Linked DNA regions of Homo sapiens. The protein of the gene in region 2 purifies or fractionates together with the protein of the main gene of each other region. This does not show direct contact. Each region holds a gene or a part of one and is shown on either strand. Other genes may lie near its edges.

What was found.
Region 1: the proteins of BANF2 (region 2) and OXSR1 purify together in Homo sapiens (affinity purification with mass spectrometry; one large-scale study listed by BioGRID and IntAct). This does not show direct contact.
Region 3: the proteins of BANF2 (region 2) and APAF1 purify together in Homo sapiens (affinity purification with mass spectrometry; one large-scale study listed by BioGRID and IntAct). This does not show direct contact.

Annotation. Positions count from the first base shown.
Region 1 is NC_000003.12:38,228,019-38,231,673, reverse strand, and holds part of OXSR1 (serine/threonine-protein kinase OSR1), read right to left. Parts: intron 1,988-3,655; coding exon 1,939-1,987; intron 1,310-1,938; coding exon 1,244-1,309; intron 1-1,243. UniProt on the Homo sapiens protein: Effector serine/threonine-protein kinase component of the WNK-SPAK/OSR1 kinase cascade, which is involved in various processes, such as ion transport, response to hypertonic stress and blood pressure.
Region 2 is NC_000020.11:17,706,334-17,709,988, forward strand, and holds part of BANF2 (barrier-to-autointegration factor-like protein), read left to right. Parts: intron 1-3,655. UniProt on the Homo sapiens protein: May play a role in BANF1 regulation and influence tissue-specific roles of BANF1.
Region 3 is NC_000012.12:98,662,167-98,665,821, forward strand, and holds part of APAF1 (apoptotic protease-activating factor 1), read left to right. Parts: intron 1-289; coding exon 290-402; intron 403-508; coding exon 509-640; intron 641-2,884; coding exon of another isoform or gene 2,885-2,913; exon of another isoform or gene 2,914-3,192; intron 3,193-3,386; coding exon 3,387-3,625; intron 3,626-3,655. UniProt on the Homo sapiens protein: Oligomeric Apaf-1 mediates the cytochrome c-dependent autocatalytic activation of pro-caspase-9 (Apaf-3), leading to the activation of caspase-3 and apoptosis. This activation requires ATP. Isoform 6 is less effective in inducing apoptosis.

The DNA.
Region 1 (3,655 bases), on a different chromosome or scaffold from region 2:
GGAACTATTCTAGGCACACTGAAGATACAGCAATGAAAAAAAGTCCCTGTTCTCATTAAGCTGTTATTCTAATGGTAAAGAAACACTGTAAAATGTCAGATGGTGATAAGTAGGGTAAAGGGATAGAGAGTCATGGGAGGGTACTGTTTTAGTAATCAGAGAATATTATTCTGAGGAAAGGCCAATTGAGTAGACTTGACATAAAGTGAAGGAATGAGCCAAGTGAGTTTTTAACCTAGTAGCTATCCATGAGAATAATTGTCCAGGTCTCATCCACTAGAGTCATGACTTTAATTGGTTTGGGATGACATTGTCCATGTTTCTTTCTTTTTTTTTTTAAGTCCCCAAGTGATTCTGATATGTAACGATGCATTATAGCCACTGAAAAAGATATATCTCTAAAATAGAGACAAGTTAACTGTTTTACCAGTGCTTATTAAGAATATCATTTCCAAGTATTTAATATACATTTCTGGTTCTTCATTGTGTTAAATTCTTGGAATGTATCAAAATTCCCAAGCAGTGAGATCTACGGAAGAGAATAAGCCACTGCTAGACATAATGCTTCTAACTTCTTGGACAGGCCTACCACTATATTATACAAGGTGTAAGACCTTTACCTTCTTCAAGTCTATCATCAGCAGAAGCCCAAACTGCCTCCTTTCCTTCACATTGGATAAGTCTGCTTGAGCAGAGAAGTAAGAGTGAGGAAAAGGGAGGATTTTCTTCTCCCTGCTCTCACAGAGGTTCATAAAAGTATCATGGACAGGAAGATTAATATATTCTGCCCAAACTGAGATATTAAAGCATTCTGTATGCTCACATCATGACCAAACTTCTTAGAAATTACATATGCGTAATAAAGTTCTTTCAGTCTTTCTGTAAAGGCAGTAGAAAATTTGGAGTTCCAAAGAGGGTACTGTGACTTATACCCAAAGCTATAAATGTCATGTAAAATCACAACTCACTCTGGTAGCTGGAAACAGTTATCAAACAGAGTTTAGAATTAATTTACCAATTACTGTCTAGCATCCCTTTTCATCCTAAAAGATAGCAGAGTAATACCAAGGCATATGGTAGACCAAAGATATTTGCTGAATGAATGTATCAAAGAATGCTTTAGAAAGGATCGACAGAAAACCAGTAATTCTCATATACTATTAACAATGTATTACTTAACATGTTTTCAAAATGCAAAAATAAAGTAAATTCTTCAGGAAAACTGAGTTAAATTCTGATTTACCTTTTTTGCTCTTTCAGAAATGGTTGGTGCTCTCTGCAATGTTTTTTCTTGAAGAAATTCTTTATTCTGGAGAGGAAAAGTAAGTATTTTGTTCTTACAAGTTTTTAAGGTACCAAAAAAAACCCACAAAAAAGTTCACCATAATCAAAATGTGATATAGTAACTGTTCTGTAATGAAGTGTGAGAAAAACTTTCATTCTTTCACTCTGAAGCTCCTTTAGTATGTTACTACCACAGTTTCATAAATTGAGGCAGAAAATTAAGATGTAGTACACTGTATGAACCACTGTCTATGAAGAGTTTGCTGTACTGTATGTTCTTTGAGATCATGGTCCTACATTTCCAACTACAGTAACATCCTACTATCTGATATATTTGGGAAATGAGATGTTTACAAATTCAGTAGTAAACCTTAAAACCAGAGTTCGGTATTTTTCACAAATTATATTTATAATGGCAAAATTTAATAATCATTGTTCCTATGATCAGTTTAACCTAATATTTAAAAACGGATTTACTAAATTCTGAAGCAATTATCTTAATTATCAAAGACTGTATACATAGTGCTTTCTGCAATTATTTTATCTACCATCATTTTTCCAAACATAATCATCCAACTTCTAAGCACTGAACATAATCTGAGTAATTGAGGAGCATCCTATGAACACACATAATCAAAAGCTGGAATTTCCTACCTTTGCTTTCTGGAAAAATTTGTGCCTTAATAGTTCTGCTGCTGTTGGTCTAAAACCAGGAAGGGAGGGAAGAAAAGTTTTTATAATTAATTCAAGTGTAATGTCAGATTCCATCATCAAAAATGAGAAAAAATTTTTTTCAACAGCAAAATAAAAACTCAGTATACTCTACTTTCCTTAAACTGCTAAAAAGCAAAAGTAAAATAAACTTGATACAGGACATTGAATAAAATAAAAAACTCAAAACAAATATTCTGATAATTATTGTAGATTCTTTGAAAAAATCATTAGTGAAATGTTTTTTCTGGAAGCATGATTTCTTAATAGAGTCTAATATATTTGCTATTTAATAATATTAATTTAATATTTAATATTATTTCCCAATAAGTAAGCTAGAAAATATCTATCTAACATTTTTAGCAAGGCATAAAAATATATTTAAACACACAAAGAGGAAATGGACCAAATCAAGACCTCCACTTCTTGCCACATGGTAGCCTGCCAGCCTTCAATTTAGGTAACCACAGATCCCTAAAAACAGATTTCACAATCTCCCTTTAAAAATGAAAATTCTAAAAGTATATTCCCCAAATTTAACAAAACTCAGTGTTTAACTCATTTCTTCATGGTCTTATTTCCTTTTAAGTAAAGACACGACTGTCAATTTTACAAGCTTTTAAAAGAGTATCATTCAGAATAAAGAATTTAACATTTAAGAGACTGGACCTGATTTTGCCACACACCTACCTGATCCTGAGCAAATCACAACCTCTCTAAGGTTCAGTATTACTTGGCCAAGCCCCTAAGTTCTTAAACACTGCTGTGCATTGAACTATCTGGGAAGAATGTAAAAATCCCAATGACCAGAGGGCACCATGGCTCATGCTTGTAATCCCAGAACTTTGGGAGGCCAAAGTGGGTGGATCACGATATCAGGAGTTCAAGACCAGCCTGGCCAATATGGTGACACCCAGTCTCTGCTAAAAAAACCACAAAAATTAGCAGGGCATGGTGGCGTGCGCCTGTAGTCCCAGCTACTTGGGAGGCTGAGGCAGGAGAATTGCTTGAACCCATGAGGCGGAGGTTGCAGTGAGCCAAGATTGTGCCACTGTACTCCAGCCTGGGCGACAAAGCAAGACTGTCTCAAAAACAAACAAACGAACAAACAAAACCAATGACCAGGCTGTACCTCAAACCAATTAAAGCAGAATCTTTAATTGGCTTTAGTAATGTTTAAAACTCCCCAGGTAATTCCAATAGGCATTCAAGTTTAAGAACCAGCACCTCAGATGATTATTATAAAGATTAAAAAGCTGAATAAATGTGAAAGTGCTATGCAAACTGAAATCCTACATTATCACTCTTATTTTTTCATATGCTCAACAATTGCTTCTCAATATGCTCAACAATGTGATTGCTCAACATTGCTTCTTATTATTCATTCCTTTCTTCTGACTTCATTTCCTTCTTTCTAAAGTACAACTTATGGGTTCTTTAAGTGACAGAACGTGACTGGAAAACTCAATTTCTGTGTGCAAAATAATTTCATGCTCATTCTTGAATGATAGTCTGACTAGCTGGAGAACTCTGGGTTAAAGTCACAGTCATGAGCCTCTTAATGCTTTGGCCAACAATATACTGTGTATCTGACAGTAGTCAGAGCAACAGGCTACACTAAATAGCCTAGGCATGCAGTAGGCTGTACCATCAAAGTTTG
Region 2 (3,655 bases):
TCAGTGACCCGGCTTGGGGATTATCATGACCCATATAGATCAAGAAGAAAAAAGTAGCTGTTGGTTAGTTGGCTGAACTCACAGGTATGAGCTTAACACGAAGGATTCAAGCTCTGGCTCTTCTCTTCGCCAAGTATATGATCTTGGGCATGTTACTAAACTGTCTAAGCCCCCATTTCCTCATCTGGCAAATGGGGCTCAGATATGTTCCTACATCATAGCTTTGTCGTGAGGATTAAATAAGATGTCTGTGAATTAGCAAGACACCTAGCCCATCCGTAGTAGGGGATCCTTAAGTGATGGCAGGAATGGAGAGGTAGGAACAGATCCACCAAGTAAAGGGTAAAGCCAAGATCAAACACAAATCCAGCCAGGTGTGGCTCCTTCTGCCTTTTCACTGCCACTAAGAGAGGGGTAGCATTCAATGAGCAGATGGCAGTGGCTCAGAGTGCAGATCAGTGCAAAGGTCTTTCTCGTCTTCTCTGCAAAGAAGGAGGGATGGCATATGTGTATCTTTGGTCATTTCCAGGTGACTCTATCCAAAGTCCATGCAGGCAAGTAGACGCTGTGAGCAGGATGGAATATACAGATCCAAACCTCTAGAGCAGAGCTAGGGCCAGGCATGACTTGATCAACATCTAAATGCCACCAACACCCAAGGGCCACACAGAGGGAAGAGACCGGGGACCACATCTTGGCACTTTCAGATGGGTTTGCAAGCACTGGAAATCAAAGCTTCACCAGGGATGCTTTAAAGATGAAAATCCCAGCCGGGCGCAGTGGCTCACGCCTGTAATCCCAGCACTTTGGGAGGCCAAGGCAGGCAGATCACGAGGTCAGGAGATTGAGACCATCCTGGCTAACACAGTGAAACCCCATCTCTACTAAAAAAAAAAAATACAAAAAATTAACCGGGCATGGTGGCAGGCGCAGTCCCAGCTACTGAGGCTGAGGCAGGAGAATGGCGTGAACCCAGGAGGTGGAGCTTGCAGTGAACCGAGATCGCACCACTGCACTCTGGCCTGGGGGACAGAGCGAGACTCTGTGTCAAAAAAAAGAAAATCCCAGTAAGGATTTAAGGGAAGATGCTGGGAGTAGCATGTGGTCCCCGAGTAGGAAGATGGAAGTACAGCAGAGGCAAGAATGGCAGTCACTGTTTGTAGATATTTTTCACAGGGAAGGTCAGAACATGTCCCAGGGAAACCATGTCCAAGGTTCAAGATGAGAATGACCTGATCCTATATATATATATACTTTTTTTTTGAGATGGAGTTTTGCTCTTATTGCCCAGGCTGGAGTGCAATGGCACGATCTCGGCTCATTGCCACATCCACCTCCTGGGTTTAAGTGATTCTCCTGCCTCAGCTTCCCGAGTAGCTGGGATTACAGGCATGTGCCACCACACCCGGCTAATTTTTTTGTATTTAGTAGAGACGAAGTTTCACCATGTTACTCAGGCTGGTCTCGAACTTCTGACCTCAGATGATCCACCCACCTTGGCCACCCAAAGTGCTGGGATTACAGGCGTGTGCCACTGCACCCAGCCCCAGCCAAGATTGTTTTTTAAGAATCAAAACTTGACTACGGGCTGGACACGGTGTCTCATGCCTGTAATCCTAGCATTTTGGGAGGCCAAGGCAGATGGATCACTTGAGGTCAGGAGTTTGAGACCAGCCTGGCCAACATGGTGAAACCCTGTCTCTACTAAAAATCAAAAAAAAAAAAAAAAAAAAACCAAAAAGAATTAGCCAGGTGTTGCGGTGCATGCCTGTAATCCCAGCTACTCGAGAGGCTGAGACAGAAGAATCACTTGAAACCAGGATGCAGAGGTTGTGGTGAGCTGAGATCATGCCACTGCACTCTAGCCTGGGTGACAAAGTGATATGTCTCGAACAAAAACAAAAACAAACAGAAAAAAACCTGAGATCCCTGATCCACAAAAGCCTGAAATATGATGTCAAATTGTATTTATATGTGCAAGGGGGCATTTTTCTTGAAGGAAGGTCCATAGCAGGAGAGACAAACCGTGGCATGGCTTTGTTTTGTTGGGTCCATACAGCATTATGAATATTTGAATGATTTCCCAACATTTAAAAATTGGATACTAGTACATAAAAATCTAAACGTTGGGCTTCTCTTGAAAAGACTCAGAAGAGCCAGTCACATGGGACCCACATTCCAGAAAGGGGTGGCCTCCTTTAGATGGGGTCTGGGACCTCAGTCAGCTACACAGTCCATAGCACTTTTGTGACCTCCTCAGTGGATGTCCAATGTTGGTCCTCTTTTATCAGCGCCCTTGCACTGTTTTCTTCACTGCTTTATTTTTTTAATTTGCCTTGTCCCTCTGGCTTTTTCATTTGCAACCCGTGATTTGAACTTTTAATAGATGCTCAAAGGGTGGCTGATTTTAAGAAGATCATTGAAACCGAGATCTTTTTTCCAGCTTAAACTCTTTCCCAACAATCCAGTGTTGAAACTGACCCTTAGTAGAGGCGGAACACCACCCTTCCCAGGCCCAGAAACAGATTCTTTTCCTCCTAAGGAATGCGTGTATGTTGTTTGTCCAAGCGCATGTTTACAAATGGCAAGCTTATCTTCTGATGTTATAAAACACCAAAAGCTATTTAGAAATTACTGAAACTCCTATCTATAGTTTCTGCAAGATACTGCTCAGGTGATAATGCAATCAATGAAAGCAATGACAATCTGGGAAATCCTTTCTTTATAACCTTGAGAATGTGGCTTTGAATGGAGACAAATCAAACAGATAGAACTCTTGCTCAGGCCCCTTTTCTGAAGCCAGAGCCAACAAGCCTAGTGATTTTCTTTTGAAAGGGTCTTAAGTAGGTCTTTGCATTTGGGAAGATCAGGCAAGTCACTTAGAGCCGATTTCTGAACTGAGACTCACAGAAGCACATACTCACACCCTCCTATCTGGAGACATGTGGACCTGGAGGGCTGGAGGAACTCAGATGCCTTGGTCCTTAGGAGGATCCAGAACCACCGCACTGAGGCCTAGCAGGCAAGGGCAGGACACACAAAATGTGAGAGCAGAGGAATGAAGGAAAATTAAATCTTGGGCGAGGCATTCTGTCCAGCAAAGAACAGGAGGTGAATACATGGCACGTGGGCCTTCGATATCCTATGAGTGGAATGAAGGCAATGCTTAAAACACTGCACCACTGCACAGCTCCACCTGTACACAAGATGCCCCTTTGTTTTGGGGCAGCCAACTGCTGCATCTCCTGTTTATATGTGCACCCAAGCAGAGGAAGTCAGTCCAAAGCTAGAAGGAGGGAAAATGATTGCCCAGAAGCTCAATGGAAGCCTTGCTTAATATCTCAGTGGTTGAGAACACAGATATTAGGCTGAGGCCCACTCGGTTTGAGGCCTGGCAATGCCATAGGTCAGTTAATTTATCTTATCTGTGAAATGGGATAATCATAGAAGCTATCTCATCCCAAGGGCAGGTGGGTGGATGAAATGAGATGATCTTGGTGCGGAGCTTAGCACGGTGCCTTGGTAAGCCTGGATAAGCATGAGCCGCTCTCTTAGGTGGGTTTCCCAGTTGCTGACCTGATCATCTAATTGCAGTGCAAGTAGTTGATATGGAAAGGGTTCCTGGTCCCATGAGGAAGGGAGTGAGGATGTGAGA
Region 3 (3,655 bases), on a different chromosome or scaffold from region 2:
GCACTCAGTAAGTGATGGCTGAACCTTTTATGGTAGGATCTGTAATTTTAATATGTTCTGATTTAGGGTTTGAGGAGAAGGCAGTCTCTAATTTTTTTTTTCCTTATTTGAATCAGCATATTGAGAAGAGTATAGCAAAGAGGAAGAATCATTTTCCTAGATCTAGCCATCTATTTGTTTTAAAAAAAATTTAATTTGGTAGATTTTAAAAGACACTGGTGGGATTATCTTTTTAAAAGGAAGCTTAAGATAAGTGTCATTAGTGATTAATATTTTTTTTTTAAATTAGGTCTCTCTTGATCTTGGATGATGTTTGGGACTCTTGGGTGTTGAAAGCTTTTGACAGTCAGTGTCAGATTCTTCTTACAACCAGAGACAAGAGTGTTACAGATTCAGTAATGGGTAAGGATTATTCGTTTACTTTTTAGTACCTTTATATTTAATTTAATTACATTTAAATATGTGACATACCAAATTACTTACTTTGTCTTGTGATTTTTGTTTGCAGGTCCTAAATATGTAGTCCCTGTGGAGAGTTCCTTAGGAAAGGAAAAAGGACTTGAAATTTTATCCCTTTTTGTTAATATGAAGAAGGCAGATTTGCCAGAACAAGCTCATAGTATTATAAAAGAATGTAAAGGTATGGTTATTTATTTGTTTATGAGGAGATTATAGGGAGTTATATAATTTCCCTTTTGTTAATTGAGCTAATGAATATGGTAATTTAGCACATGAACATCCAAAAACTTTTCTGGGAGATTTAGTATTTTAGGTTCTCTGATATCTTAAATGGATACATGATATTATGGTATTTATTTATTCATTAAAATAATATTTACCATCTACCCACAGTGTGTTAGAGACCACATTAGTGAGAGAAGTGAGACACAGATGTGACCTCTGCTGTTAGAGTTAAAAATAGAGTGAGAATCAGATTTTAAAACTTGTTTTTGCTTGGGATTTTATAAAAATAGTGTTCTAATTTGGTAAGTAAAAACTGGTGTCTTAATTTGCATTTTTTTTTAGCGAAGTTAAACTTTTTACTTGTTTATTGAATACGTTTTAAGAAGTTATCCTTGACTTTAAGAAATTATCCTTGACTCACTTTTCTTTTTTGATATAAGTATTTTTAATTTATTTCTAAATACTCAAAAAATAGAAACTATTAGCTCTTTGTCATATTTTTACAAGTATTATTTCCCAGTAAAACAATTTTTTAACTTAAAATTTATATATAGAATCTCGCTGTGTTGCCCAGGCTGGTCTTGAACTACTTGCCTCAAATGATCCTCCTGCCTTAGCCTCCTAAAGCACTGGGACTACAGGCATGAGTCACCATGTCCAGCCTGTTACCCAGTTTTTTGTGTACCTTTTATTTGTTGTATTCTTTTGACATATAGAAGCTTAAAATTTTAAACAGTCAAATCTATCAACTCTTAAAATTATTTCTTTCATTATTGTTATGCTTGGAAATACCTTATTTTTCTTCTTTTTCTTTTTTTTTCTCTTTTGAGACAAGTCTCACTCTGTCGTCCAGGCTGGAGTGCAGTGGCGTGATCTCGGCTCACTGCAACTTCTGCCTCCCAGGTTCAAGCAGTTCTTCTGCCTCAGCCTCTCGAGTATCTGGGACTACAGGCATGTTCCACCATGCCTAGCTAATTTTTGTATTTTCAGTAGAGACGGGGTTTCGCCATGTTGGTCAGGCTGGTCTCGAACTCCTGACCTCAGGTGATTGCCCGCCTCAGCCTCCCAAAGTGCTGGGATTATAGGCATGAGCTACCATACCTGGCCACCTTATTTTTCATTCTGCCATCAAATAGACACACAGTTTTGTTTGTTTATTTATTTATTTATTTATTTTATTTATTTTTTGAGACGAGTCTCACTCTGTCGCCCAGGCTGGAGTGCAGTGGTGCGACCTCTGCTCACTGCAACCTCTGCTGCCCAGGTTCAAGTGATCCTCCTGCCTCAGCCCCCTAGTAGCTGGGATTACAGGTGCGTGCTACCTCACCCAGCTAATTTTTGTAGTTTTAGTAGAGATGGGGTTTCATCATCTTGGCCAGGGTAGTCTTGAACTCCTGACCTCGTGATCCACCTGCCTCAGCCACCCAAAGTGCTGGGATTACAGGCGTGAGCCACCACACGTGGCCAGTTTTGTTAATTTTTAAAGAAATCTTACACTTAGAAAAAATGCTTAATTTGTAGTTATTACAAAGGGTGATGCATGTCCATTTTGAAAATGTGTGAAACTAAAAAAAAAATAGAAATTATCCATAACCTGATAATTATTAGCATCATGAGAGTATTGCCTCCAGTCTTTTAGAACAAAGATTTAAAAAGTTGAGATTATGTATATGTGGTTTTGGATTTTGCCCTTTTTTTTTTAAAGAGCCAGGGTCTTGCTCTGTCACCCAGGCTGGAGTGCAGTAAGATCACAGCTCACTGCAGGCTTGAATGTCTTGGCTTAAGCAATCCTCCTGCCCCAGCCTCCTGAATAGCTGGGACTGCAGATACCCACCACCACACCTGGGTAATTTTTAAATTTTTTTGTAGGGACAGGGTCTCACTATGTTGCCCAGGCAGGTCTCAAACTTCTGCCCTCAAGCAATCCTCCCACCTCAGCCTCCTGAAGTGCTAGGACTACAGACACATGTCGCCACACCCAGCTGGATCTTACCCTTTTTCTATATCTTGAGCATTTTCCCATGTTGTTAAATATTTTTTTGAAAAAAATTTACCAGTGGCATAATATTGATATATCTTAATTTATTCAACCACTTCTGTATTATTGGACATTGTTTACGTTGTTTAAGATTTTTTCACTATTCTAAGTGTGCTGTGATGAATATCCTTAAACTTAATCATTCTTTTCTTTTTCTTTAAGACAGAGTCTCACACTGTTCCTCAGGCTAGGATGCAGTGGTGCTGTCATGGCTCACCGTAGCCTCAACCTCCTGGGCTGAAGCAATCCTCCCACCTCAGCCTCCTAAGTAGCCGGCACTATAGGCACACACCACCACACCTGGCTGATTTTTCTAATTTTTATTTTTAGTAGAGACAAGGTCTCATTATATTGCTTAGACTGGCGCATATATATATATATATATATATATTTTTTTTTTTTTTTGTAATGACATCTTAGCCAGATTTGATCTATGTTATTTTGACTTAATAAAGATAATCAGGAACTTACTGAATGAAATCTTTCTTATTTCTAATTTTTTTTGGGATAAATATCTAGAAGTGAAGTCAAGAGTGATAAATACTTAAGGCTTTTGATAACATGCAGCAGAAATTGTTTCTTAGTAATGTAAGTAAGTAAGTCGATTCTTATTAGTGACAAAATAGGATGGTATTAGCATAGTGACTTCATTTTTTTTTTAAAGGCTCTCCCCTTGTAGTATCTTTAATTGGTGCACTTTTACGTGATTTTCCCAATCGCTGGGAGTACTACCTCAAACAGCTTCAGAATAAGCAGTTTAAGAGAATAAGGAAATCTTCGTCTTATGATTATGAGGCTCTAGATGAAGCCATGTCTATAAGTGTTGAAATGCTCAGAGAAGACATCAAAGATTATTACACAGATCTTTCCATCCTTCAGAAGGACGTTAAGGTGCCTACAAAGGTAATGGGATCAATGATCCTCATCATTGGG